Linked DNA regions of Homo sapiens. The protein of the gene in region 3 purifies or fractionates together with the protein of the main gene of each other region. This does not show direct contact. Each region holds a gene or a part of one and is shown on either strand. Other genes may lie near its edges. The genes, in order: GAS6, PNPLA6 and PCDHB16.

Region 1 (3,646 bases), on a different chromosome or scaffold from region 3:
GACAGCCATCTTCAAGGCATCCATATCTATTTCATAATAGTGTATACTTTTTAATGATTCTCTGTAATTTTTGTATGCTTGAAATATTTCATAATTTAAAAATAAAGGGTCAAGGGAAATGAGCAGGGAAGGAGATGACGGGGACCCCCGAGAAGCCCTGTGGGAAGCGGCTGCTGCAAGCCCGCCCTTCACCTGGGAGTCCCAGTGGGGCAGGTGTGACAGCCTCTGGGGTCTCAGCAGCTAGAGGCGGGGTGGCCACTCCCGAGGCACAGGAGGGACAGTGGACCCGCTGCGCGGCCGGGGCGTGGGGCTCAGGGGAGCAGGAGTGAAGGCCACATCCCCGACCGGCGTGGCCCCCGTCCGTGGCAGGACATCTTGCCGTGCGTGCCCTTCAGCGTGGCCAAGAGTGTGAAGTCCTTGTACCTGGGCCGGATGTTCAGTGGGACCCCCGTGATCCGACTGCGCTTCAAGAGGCTGCAGCCCACCAGGTGAGGAGGTGTCCACAGGAGGCAACACAACTTAGAATGGCCAAGACACTGGCTTCACAGGGCCCGGGCCAGGGTTCGGCCAGCAGGGAGGGGCCGGGCATCTGCCTGTGCCCAGTGCTGACTCATTTCTCCTGTGGGTGCCCAGGCTGGTAGCTGAGTTTGACTTCCGGACCTTTGACCCCGAGGGCATCCTCCTCTTTGCCGGAGGCCACCAGGACAGCACCTGGATCGTGCTGGCCCTGAGAGCCGGCCGGCTGGAGCTGCAGCTGCGCTACAACGGTGTCGGCCGTGTCACCAGCAGCGGCCCGGTCATCAACCATGGCATGTGGCAGACAGTGAGTGTGCGGCAGCCACCCCTTCCAGGCCTCACGGGGTTCTCCCTGAGCCAGACTCAGCTGTCACTCGCTTATGCAACCGTTAGGAGATGAGCTCTGGGGCCTGCATCTGCTGCGTGCCGGCAGGACGGGGACCCCTGCCCCGTTTAGTTCATGCTCCGGGAGACGGGGACCCCTGCCCCGTTTAGTTCATGCTCCGGGGGACGGGGACCCCTGCCCCGTTTAGTTCATGCTCCGGGGGACGGGGACCCCTGCCCCGTTTAGTTCATGCTCCGGGGGACGGGGACCCCTGCCCCGTTTAGTTCATGCTCCGGGGGACGGGGACCCCTGCCCCGTTTAGTTCATGCTCCGGGGGACGGGGACCCCTGCCCCGTTTAGTTCATGCTCCGGGGGACGGGGACCCCTGCCCCGTTTAGTTCATGCTCCGGGGGACGGGGACCCCTGCCCCGTTTAGTTCATGCTCCGGGGGACGGGGACCCCTGCCCCGTTTAGTTCATGCTCCGGGGGACGGGGACCCCTGCCCCGTTTAGTTCATGCTCCGGGGGACGGGGACCCCTGCCCCGTTTAGTTCATGCTCTGGGGGCTCACTGTGGTGCTCTAGGCCTCTCTGCTATTTCATCACGTTTCAGCCTGGCTCCCTCAGAAAGGGGCCTTGAGTGCAACCTGTCAGTTTGGTCTCCCTGAGTTTGGTCACCCTGGCTCAGGTAGAACCCGTGGTTCTCAGCCCCAGGGGACCCTGGGCTGTGTCTGGAGGCCATGCTGTTTATCCCGAGCAGAGTGGGGAACAGAAGCCAGGGCTGCTTGACGCTACACGCAGGGTGCCCCACCAGGGGAGGAGGCCGCCACTGAACCCGCACCACAGCCCAGAGCTCCCGCCGTACGTGTCTCCCGGGCCGTGGCCAGGCCAGGCGCCGCCCGCCCACCCTTCCCTGTAGGACGGCGTGGACGCTGCGGTCCCTGAGCCCTGGCTCCCAGGGCCTGCTGGTCAGTGCGGCCATGCATGCCAAGGGTCCAGGTGACCTCACGGGAGCTGCCCCTTGCCAGAGACGTCCTGACCACCTGGACCCCAGCCCCATGGGCAACCTGAGGGGTCCTGGTCAGACCTGCACTTGGGCAGCTGTGGGCAGCGGTAAAACGTGCCCACCCCACATCCCCATCCGTGGAGCGAGAGGGCCTGTAAGCAACCAGGCTCCCGCCCACAGCGCTGGGCCTCCCTCACCATACTGGGCTTGCAGAAGGAAACGTTGGGAAGAAAGGTGGAAAGCACGTCTTGCCCTTCAGAAACATTGTAGACTTGTATTTCCATCCTGCAAAGCAATGCCTCGCTCCATTTTTCCCAACCTCTTAAAGGAGCAGTATCTCCAAGAGCAGGAGGCTGTTCTCAGCAAAGCTACAGAAAGCAAAGGAAGCAGAAGCAGTTTCAGGGATGGAGCCCCGGGGAGGAGGGCCCCAGGGCAGGTGGCCTGAGGCGAGGTCGCCTGGGGGAGCGGTGTTGCAGGGGATGGAGCCATGGGGAGGAGGGGCCCGGGGCAGGTGGCCTGAGGCGAGGTCGCCTGGAGGGAGTGGTGTTGCAGGGGATGGAGCCATGGGGAGGAGGGGCCCGGGGCAGGTGGCCTGAGGCGAGGTCGCCTGGGGGAGCGGTGTTGCAGGGGATGGAGCCATGGGGAGGAGGGGCCCGGGGCAGGTGGCCTGAGGCGAGGTCACCTGGGGGAGCGGTGTTGCAGGGGATGGAGCCACGGGGAGGAGGGGCCCGGGGCAGGTGGCCTGAGGCGAGGTCACCTGGGGGAGTGGTGTTGCAGGGGATGGAGCCACGGGGAGGAGGGGCCCGGGGCAGGTGGCCTGAGGCGAGGTCGCCTGGGGGAGCGGTGTTGCAGGGGATGGAGCCACGGGGAGGAGGGGCCCAGGGCAGGTGGCCTGAGGCGAGGTCACCTGGGGGAGCGGTGTTGCAGTGTAGTCCCGCCCAGTGACTCACAGCGGCCGCAGCACCCCACCAAGACAGGCCCTTCCCCAGCAGGGGTACCTCATGAGGACCCCTCCCCAATTCCACCCTCTCTAGCTGCTGCCCAAACCCAGCTGACCCGAATTTGTACCATGTTTTTGTGACTCAGTTCAAACCCAAATACCTGAAAGGTGTTTTCACACAGGAAGAAGGATATTCTTCTGAAGCTCAGGAATATAGTGTATCTAGCATTAGACTTTACAGGTTTTCTATGAGGAAAGGTTTTGGTGACCACATTGATGCATCGAGGGCCCTCCTGGCCCAGATGATGAGCAGGGACTCTCTGAGGTTGGGACCCTCTTGGCTCAGGTGTGGATCAGGTGGTCTCCTTGAGGTCAGGTCCCTCTTGGCTCAGGTGAGGATCAGGTGGTCTCCCTGAGATTGGGACCTTCTTGGCTCAGGTGTGGATCAGGGGGTCTCCCTGAGATTGGGACCCTCTTGGCTCAGGTGAGGATCAGGTGGTCTCCCCGAGGTCAGGTCCCTCTTGGCCCAGGTGAGGATCAGGTGGCCTCCCTGAGATTGGGACCCTCTTGGCCCAGGTGAGGATCAGGTGGACTCCCTGAGGTCAGGTCCCTCTTGGCCCAGGTGAGGATCAGGTGGACTCCCTGAGGTCAGGTCCCTCTTGGCCCAGGTGAGGATCAGATGGTCTCCTTGAGATCAGGTCCCTCATGGCTCAGGTGAGGATCAGGTGGTCTCTCTGAGGTTGGGACCCTCTTGGCTCAGGTGTGGATCAGGTGGTCTCTCTGAAGTTGGGACCCTCTTGGCCCAGGTGAGGATCAGGTGGTCTCCCCGGGTCAGGTCCCTCTTGGCCCAGGTGAGGATCA
Region 2 (3,646 bases), on a different chromosome or scaffold from region 3:
CGGCAAGATGACCCTCTTTTGTCTTCTAGATATTGTATTCTCTATCTGTAATTTCTTTCCTTTTCTTTTCTTTTTTTTTTTCTTTCTTTTTTTTTTTTTGAGATGGAGTTTTGCTCTGGTTGCCCAGGCTGGAGTGCAATGGCGTAGGCTCGGCTCACTGCAACCTCTGCCTCCCCGGTTCAAGCGATTCTCCTGCCTCAGCCGTCCAAGTAGCTGGGATTACAGGCACCCACCACCACACCCGACTAATTTTTGTACTTTTAGTAGAGATGAGTTTCACCACGTTGGCCAGGCTGGTCTCGAACCCCTGACCTCAAGTGATTCACCTGCCTCAGCCTCACAAAGTGCTGAGATTACAGGCGTGACCCACCGCCCCAGGCCTCTGTAATTTCTTAATGATGTCTTTTCTGCCACTACCGCCCTGCCCCCGCCTTGGGGGATCTAGGGCTCAGGGCCAATTGGGTAGAACCCCTGGAGGGAAAAGGGGTATCTAGGTTGCTGGGCTGGCCCAGAATCTGGCCACCACAATGTAGAAACTCAGGCCCTCATTTCAGCAGGCCTCCAACCCCACCGCACGCCCCATTCTGTTCTAGCTCACTGAAGCCACAGGCTGAAACAGGGGGCTACATCTCCCAGCAAGCTGTAACTTCAGAAGGCGAGGTGCCCAGAGTCCTAAACAACAATCCACAGACTATTTTCCATCATGGTATGGGGAGTTTTGTTTGTTTGCTGTTTTATTTTTTCTGAAACAGGTTCTAGCTCTGTCATCCCGGCTGGAGTACAGTGGCACGATCACGGCTCACTGCAGCCTCGACCTCCGGGCTCAAGCAATCAATCCTCCCGCCTCAGCCTCCTGAGTGGCTGAGACTACAGGCATGTGTCACCAAGCCCAGCTAATGTTTGAAATTTTTGTAGAGACGGGGGTCCTACTATGTTGCCCAGGCTGGTTTCAAACTCAATCTCCTGGGCTCAAGCGATCCTCCTGCCTCAGCCTCCCAAAGTGCTGAGATTACAGGCATGAGCCACCATGACGGCCCTGCCATCATATTCTGATCTAGGACTCCCTTTCTCTCAACGTCCAGGCCGTGGACTTCCCCAGCAAGCCCTGACTCCCGGGCAGACTACGCCAAGTCCACCGCCTAAGACTCCCTCCCCGGCACCACTGATTTACTTTCGAGCCCATTAACTAGCACGCCAGGGGTCGAGGACTTCGTTTCCCAGCATGCTCAGGAACACGAACTCCATTCCCCAGAATGCTCTGCACCTGGGTCCTACTTAGGGTTTGAAACCCTCAGGGGCACGATTTCTTCGCGGAACTCCATTTCCCAGCATCCCTCAGGAAAGAAGGCTTCCCTCCCAGCATGCTCTGGACGCCGGACTACATCTCCCAGCACGCTCTGGGCCGGCCGGCTCTCACCTGGGAAGGGTCCTTGCAGCTGCTGCAAATTCCCTAGAATTTTCTGGCTCAGTAGGTGGATAAGGCGGGTCACGACCTGGGGGCGTTGGAGGCCGGCATTTCAGTGAGACCTGGGAAGCGGCTGTCCAGGTCCCACCTCTCCCTCCTATGCCGGGGCTCCTGGGTGCCCGTTACCTGGGTCCCACCCCCGAGAGCCCCCGCCCTCACTCTCTCGCTTCGGCCCCTCCCTCGACCCCGCCCCTCTGTAAGCCCCGCCCACACACTAGGCCCGGCCCCCACCCCCCCGGAGTCCCGCCTCCGCCTCTCTGCCCCGCCCACAACAGGCCGCACCTGCGGGTACCGGCGTTTGATGTGACCCAAGGTGCCCTCGGGAAGCTTGGCCAGCTCCGTGTCGCGCACCGCGTGCACCGTCGTGGCTCGCGGCTGCCGGGTCAGTGCCTCCACCTGGGGGGCCGCGTGCATGATTGGGGCTGCTTGGGTGGGGAATGAGGAGGCCGAAGATGGGTGGAAAGGGGGCTGTACTGCCCCATCTAGGGCTCCCCTGCAATGGGGGTGTAGGGAAGCAAGCCTCGCTCGCTACCCATTAGAGCTCTGGGGAGAGGGAGAGGACAGGGATCCACGACAGGCGGAATCCCCTTTTTCCAACGAAATGAGGTCTGGGCGGGGAGTGGACTGGGTGACCTCAGAGGTCGGGAGCTGCATTCACCACTCCCTGGATTACCCGGGATGATGTGTGTGAGTTGTCGAGGGACTGGCCTGGAAAAGGCCAGAGGTCAGTGGGTGGGGGTCGCGCTCACCACGCCGATGAGGTCGCCGCGGCCGTACTCGCCCACCAGCTCCTTCTTGCCACTGCCTCGCTGGATCACGCTACGCAGCCGCCCATTGAGCACGATGTAAGTGCAGTCGGAGCGGTCGCCCTGCCTGAGTGGGCGTGGAGGTCAGCAAGGTCTGACCACCCCCAGGTCCCCACCCCTAGGCCGGGCCTGAGCAGCGCGGTGGGAGCTGCACCTGTACAGCGCGCGTCCCGCCTCCACTGCAGTCCAGTCGATGGCGAAGTCCATCTGGCGCACGAAGGGCGACATCCTGGCTGCCACCGTGTGCGCCGCACTCAGCACCACACTGGGCTGTGCGCGCATGATCCTGCAGGAACAGACTTGGGATGAAAGAGGAAGGCCTCAAAACCGTCCTACACCGGCGCTGGGAGGCCAGATCTGGGGGCTCCCTTCTGCTCTTCCAGGAGTGAGGTTGAGGGATGGGGTTCTGGCCACTCCCACGGGTTGGGGTCCTCCGAGTGCCACCCACACTCCAACTTCGGGCTGTCATACTCATAGAAGTCGGACTTGGAGATCCGCAGGAAGGTGCAGTCGCGTTGGGCTCGCAGTGTGAAGATGAGAGGTTCGCCAGTGAGCACCGCCAGCTGCCCCACCAGTTCCCCGGGCTGCGCTACGAACAGGCACACGTCCTCCGCCTTGTCGATCATGCGCTGGTACACGTGCAGGCAGCCCCAGAGCACGAAGTGCAGGCTCACGTCCTGTGCGGGCAGGGGATGTGATGAACACAGAACCCGGACAGCGTGGACCCCAGCTCAGGTCAACATGCCCCCACAGGAAAAAATTAAAGAAGAAAGGAAGGGTTAAGAAAAATATGAAGGCGCAGGGCGCGGTGGCTCACGGCTGTAATCCCAGCGCTTTGGGAGGCCAGGCAGGGGGGATCACTTGAGGCCAGGAGTTCGGCACCAGCCTGGCCAACGTGGCGAAACCTGTCTCTACTAAAATAAAAAAATTAGCTGGGCGTCGTGGCACATGTCTGTAATTCCAGCTACTCAGGAAGCTGAGGCAAGAGAATTGCCTGAACCTGGAAGGCTGAGGTTGCAGTGAGCTGAGATCATGCCATTGCACTCCAGCCTGGGCGACAGAGTGAGACACTGTCTTTAAAAAAAAAAAGAAGAAGAAGGCCAGGCGCGGTGGCTCACGCCTGTAATCCCAGAACTTTGGGAGGCCGAGGCAGGCGGATCAAGAGGTCAGGAGATCGAGACCATCCTGGCTAATACAGTGAAACCCCGTCTCTACTGAAAATACAAAAAATTAGCCGGGTGTGGTGGCGGGCGCCTGTAGTCCCAGCTACTTGGGAGGCTGAGGCAGGAGAATGGCGTGAAACCGGGAGGCGGAGCTTGCAATGAGCCAAGATCGCGCCACTGCACTCCAGCGTGGGCGACAGAGCGAGACTCCG
Region 3 (3,746 bases):
GTTTTACATTTATTGCCTTTTAAATGTTTCCCCAAGTCCTAAGGGAGTTGACATATTATCCCCTTTTTTAAATATGAGAAAACTGAGGCTTAGAAAGGTAACTTGGCTGTGAGCTGTGGCTCACACCTGTAATCATAACACTTTGAGAGGCTGAGGCAAGCTGAACCCTTTGAGCTCAGTAGTTCGAGACCAGCCTGGGCAATGGGGCAAAACACTGACACTAACAAAAATACAAAAATTAGCCAGGTGTGATTGCGAACCTGTAGTCCCAGCTACTCAGGAGGCTGAGGTAAGAGGATCCCCTGAGCCCAGGAGACAGAGACTACAGTGAGCCAAGATTGTGCCATTGCACTCCAGGCTGGGTGACAGAGTGAGACCTCATTCCCCCCCACAAAAAACGATTAACTTTCTTATAATTCTGAAATAATAAAGGTAAAAATTTAAAATATAATCTAAGTCTAGCCAATATGCTATATGGTCAGGCATTAACTGATAGCATTGTTTTTCTAACTAAGGAAGTGAAATTTATGTTATTCCTACTCCTACTCCATGAACTAAACTCTCATGTGAAAATATAAGTTTTAGTTTATAGTTTGTTTATACTACTCTGCACAAATATACCCATGTTCTTATCAAAGCTCTAAGTATGCTGGGACAGATACTACAAATGAACTTTATGATGAGCGAATTAACCTGATTTATAGTCCTGTACTTTCTCTACGTGCCATATCCATTATTAAAGAAATGAGTCTAAGTAGGAAGTAGAGTTAACCTATAGTTTCATTTCTTGAATTTCTTATTCTCTTTCTTCAGTCTTTTTCAGTTAACCTACACACACACACACACACACACACACACACACACACACACACATATGTTTATAAGTGGGATGGGAGAACGGGTACGGTGATAATTAAAAGAGGTAAGGTTTCTCTTGAGATGAAAATGTTCTAAAATTGTGATGGCGGATGCACACCTCTGAATATATTAAAAGCCATTGAAATGAAAAAAGGGTGGGGGGAATCCAAAAGTGTAGCAGACCCAACCTTGAGATTTGCTTGTTTGGGAATGAATTTTCCAATAACTTGAAAGTTGTAAAAACTCACACTTCTCAGGGTTAGGTGTCAGAAAGAAAAGGAAGTAATTTATTCTTTAATAAAGCAATTGTTAAATACTCTTTAGAACTACCACTGATTGCAATTTTGCAGTGTCTACTCATAGTGTCTATATAGGTACCATGAAAAAGATGTACTTGTGAAACTGTTCTCATGTTACTTCAGAAAAATTTTGCTTCTAAGTGTGTATTCTATGTCTGGTTAAATGTTCATTGAATTTTATTTAATCATTAATCTCAACAGCATTAAACAGTCAATAACATAAATGACAGTCTTCTCTTTGTACTCCTCCCTGTACAACATCACAGAGCTCCATCTGTATACACGAAAGTCACATGAAAATAGAACTCAGTGTTTTGTATTACATAGTCTATTCAGTACATTTAGAAGTATTTTGCCTCCAATATTCAACCACAGTAAAAGACTCAGTGAGAACGCGTGGTGGCGCTGCAGGTTAAGATGACGGAAAATACAACTGCCTACGCAGCTCCAGGATCCAGCAAACCGTTTCCCAAAGCCTGGAAGCAGAAGAATAGCTGAGCCAGAGCGAACGTGAGTGTGAAACCTCTTTAAGACACCGTTGGGCTGCTTGGTTCTGACATTCTGGACTGCAAAACAGTTCTACTAGGATCCTGGGGATACATGAAGCTTCTGTGAACCAACTTTTCAAGAAAAAGCAATGGAGATTGGATGGATGCACAATCGGAGACAAAGGCAAGTCCTTGTTTTCTTTGTTTTGCTGAGCTTGTCTGGGGCGGGCGCCGAGTTGGGGTCCTATTCCGTAGTGGAAGAAACGGAGAGAGGCTCTTTTGTGGCAAATCTAGGAAAAGACCTGGGGTTGGGGTTGACAGAGATGTCCACCCGCAAGGCCAGGATCATTTCCCAGGGGAACAAACAGCATTTGCAGCTCAAGGCTCAAACTGGGGATTTGCTCATAAATGAGAAGCTAGATCGAGAGGAGCTATGCGGTCCCACTGAGCCTTGCATACTACATTTCCAAGTGTTAATGGAAAACCCTTTAGAAATATTTCAGGCTGAACTGAGGGTGATAGATATAAATGACCATTCTCCCATGTTCACTGAAAAGGAAATGATTCTAAAAATACCGGAAAACAGTCCTCTAGGAACTGAGTTCCCTCTGAATCATGCTTTGGACTTGGACGTAGGAAGCAATAATGTTCAAAACTATAAAATCAGCCCAAGCTCTCATTTCCGGGTTCTAATCCATGAATTCAGAGATGGCAGGAAATACCCTGAGCTAGTGTTGGATAAAGAGCTGGATCGGGAGGAGGAGCCTCAACTAAGATTAACCCTGACAGCGCTGGATGGTGGCTCTCCACCGCGATCTGGAACTGCTCAGGTCCGTATTGAAGTGGTGGACATCAATGATAACGCTCCTGAGTTTGAGCAGCCCATCTACAAAGTGCAGATTCCAGAGAACAGTCCTCTTGGCTCCCTGGTTGCCACCGTCTCCGCCAGGGATTTAGACGGCGGAGCCAATGGAAAAATATCATACACACTCTTTCAGCCTTCGGAGGATATTAGTAAAACTTTGGAGGTAAATCCTATGACAGGGGAAGTTCGACTGAGAAAGCAAGTAGATTTCGAAATGGTTACGTCTTATGAAGTGCGCATCAAAGCCACAGATGGGGGAGGTCTTTCAGGAAAGTGCACTCTTCTCCTGCAGGTGGTGGACGTGAATGACAATCCCCCACAGGTGACCATGTCTGCACTCACCAGCCCCATCCCAGAGAACTCGCCTGAGATAGTAGTTGCTGTTTTCAGCGTTTCAGATCCTGACTCCGGAAACAATGGGAAGACGATTTCCTCCATCCAGGAAGACCTTCCCTTTCTTCTAAAACCTTCAGTCAAGAACTTTTACACCTTGGTAACGGAGAGAGCACTCGACAGAGAAGCAAGAGCTGAATATAATATCACCCTCACCGTCACAGATATGGGGACTCCAAGGCTGAAAACGGAGCACAACATAACAGTGCAGATATCAGATGTCAATGATAACGCCCCCACTTTCACCCAAACCTCCTACACCCTGTTCGTCCGCGAGAACAACAGCCCCGCCCTGCACATCGGCAGCGTCAGCGCCACAGACAGAGACTCGGGCACCAACGCCCAGGTCACCTACTCGCTGCTGCCGCCCCAAGACCCGCACCTGCCCCTCGCCTCCCTGGTCTCCATCAACGCGGACAACGGCCACCTGTTCGCCCTCAGGTCGCTGGACTACGAGGCCCTGCAGGCTTTCGAGTTCCGCGTGGGCGCCACAGACCGCGGCTCCCCCGCGCTGAGCAGAGAGGCGCTGGTGCGCGTGCTGGTGCTGGACGCCAACGACAACTCGCCCTTCGTGCTGTACCCGCTGCAGAACGGCTCCGCGCCCTGCACTGAGCTGGTGCCCCGGGCGGCCGAGCCGGGCTACCTGGTGACCAAGGTGGTGGCGGTGGACGGCGACTCGGGCCAGAATGCCTGGCTGTCGTACCAGCTGCTCAAGGCCACGGAGCCCGGGCTGTTCGGTGTGTGGGCGCACAATGGCGAGGTGCGCACCGCCAGGCTGCTGAGCGAGCGCGACGCAGCCAAGCAGAGGCTGGTGGTGCTGGTCAAGGACAATGGCGAGCCTCC

What was found.
Region 1: the proteins of PCDHB16 (region 3) and GAS6 purify together in Homo sapiens (affinity purification with mass spectrometry; 2 studies listed by BioGRID and IntAct, with this or other methods). This does not show direct contact.
Region 2: the proteins of PCDHB16 (region 3) and PNPLA6 purify together in Homo sapiens (affinity purification with mass spectrometry; 2 studies listed by BioGRID and IntAct, with this or other methods). This does not show direct contact.

What each region holds. Positions count from the first base shown.
Region 1 is NC_000013.11:113,829,476-113,833,121, reverse strand, and holds part of GAS6 (growth arrest-specific protein 6 precursor), read left to right. Parts: intron 1-369; coding exon 370-488; intron 489-633; coding exon 634-823; intron 824-3,646. UniProt on the Homo sapiens protein: Ligand for tyrosine-protein kinase receptors AXL, TYRO3 and MER whose signaling is implicated in cell growth and survival, cell adhesion and cell migration.
Region 2 is NC_000019.10:7,549,209-7,552,854, reverse strand, and holds part of PNPLA6 (patatin-like phospholipase domain-containing protein 6), read right to left. Parts: intron 2,949-3,646; coding exon 2,743-2,948; intron 2,558-2,742; coding exon 2,426-2,557; intron 2,339-2,425; coding exon 2,215-2,338; intron 1,862-2,214; coding exon 1,748-1,861; intron 1,494-1,747; coding exon 1,418-1,493; intron 1-1,417. UniProt on the Homo sapiens protein: Phospholipase B that deacylates intracellular phosphatidylcholine (PtdCho), generating glycerophosphocholine (GroPtdCho). This deacylation occurs at both sn-2 and sn-1 positions of PtdCho.
Region 3 is NC_000005.10:141,180,766-141,184,511, forward strand, and holds the start of PCDHB16 (protocadherin beta-16 precursor), read left to right. Parts: upstream 1-1,621; 5' UTR 1,622-1,794; coding exon 1,795-3,746. UniProt on the Homo sapiens protein: Potential calcium-dependent cell-adhesion protein. May be involved in the establishment and maintenance of specific neuronal connections in the brain.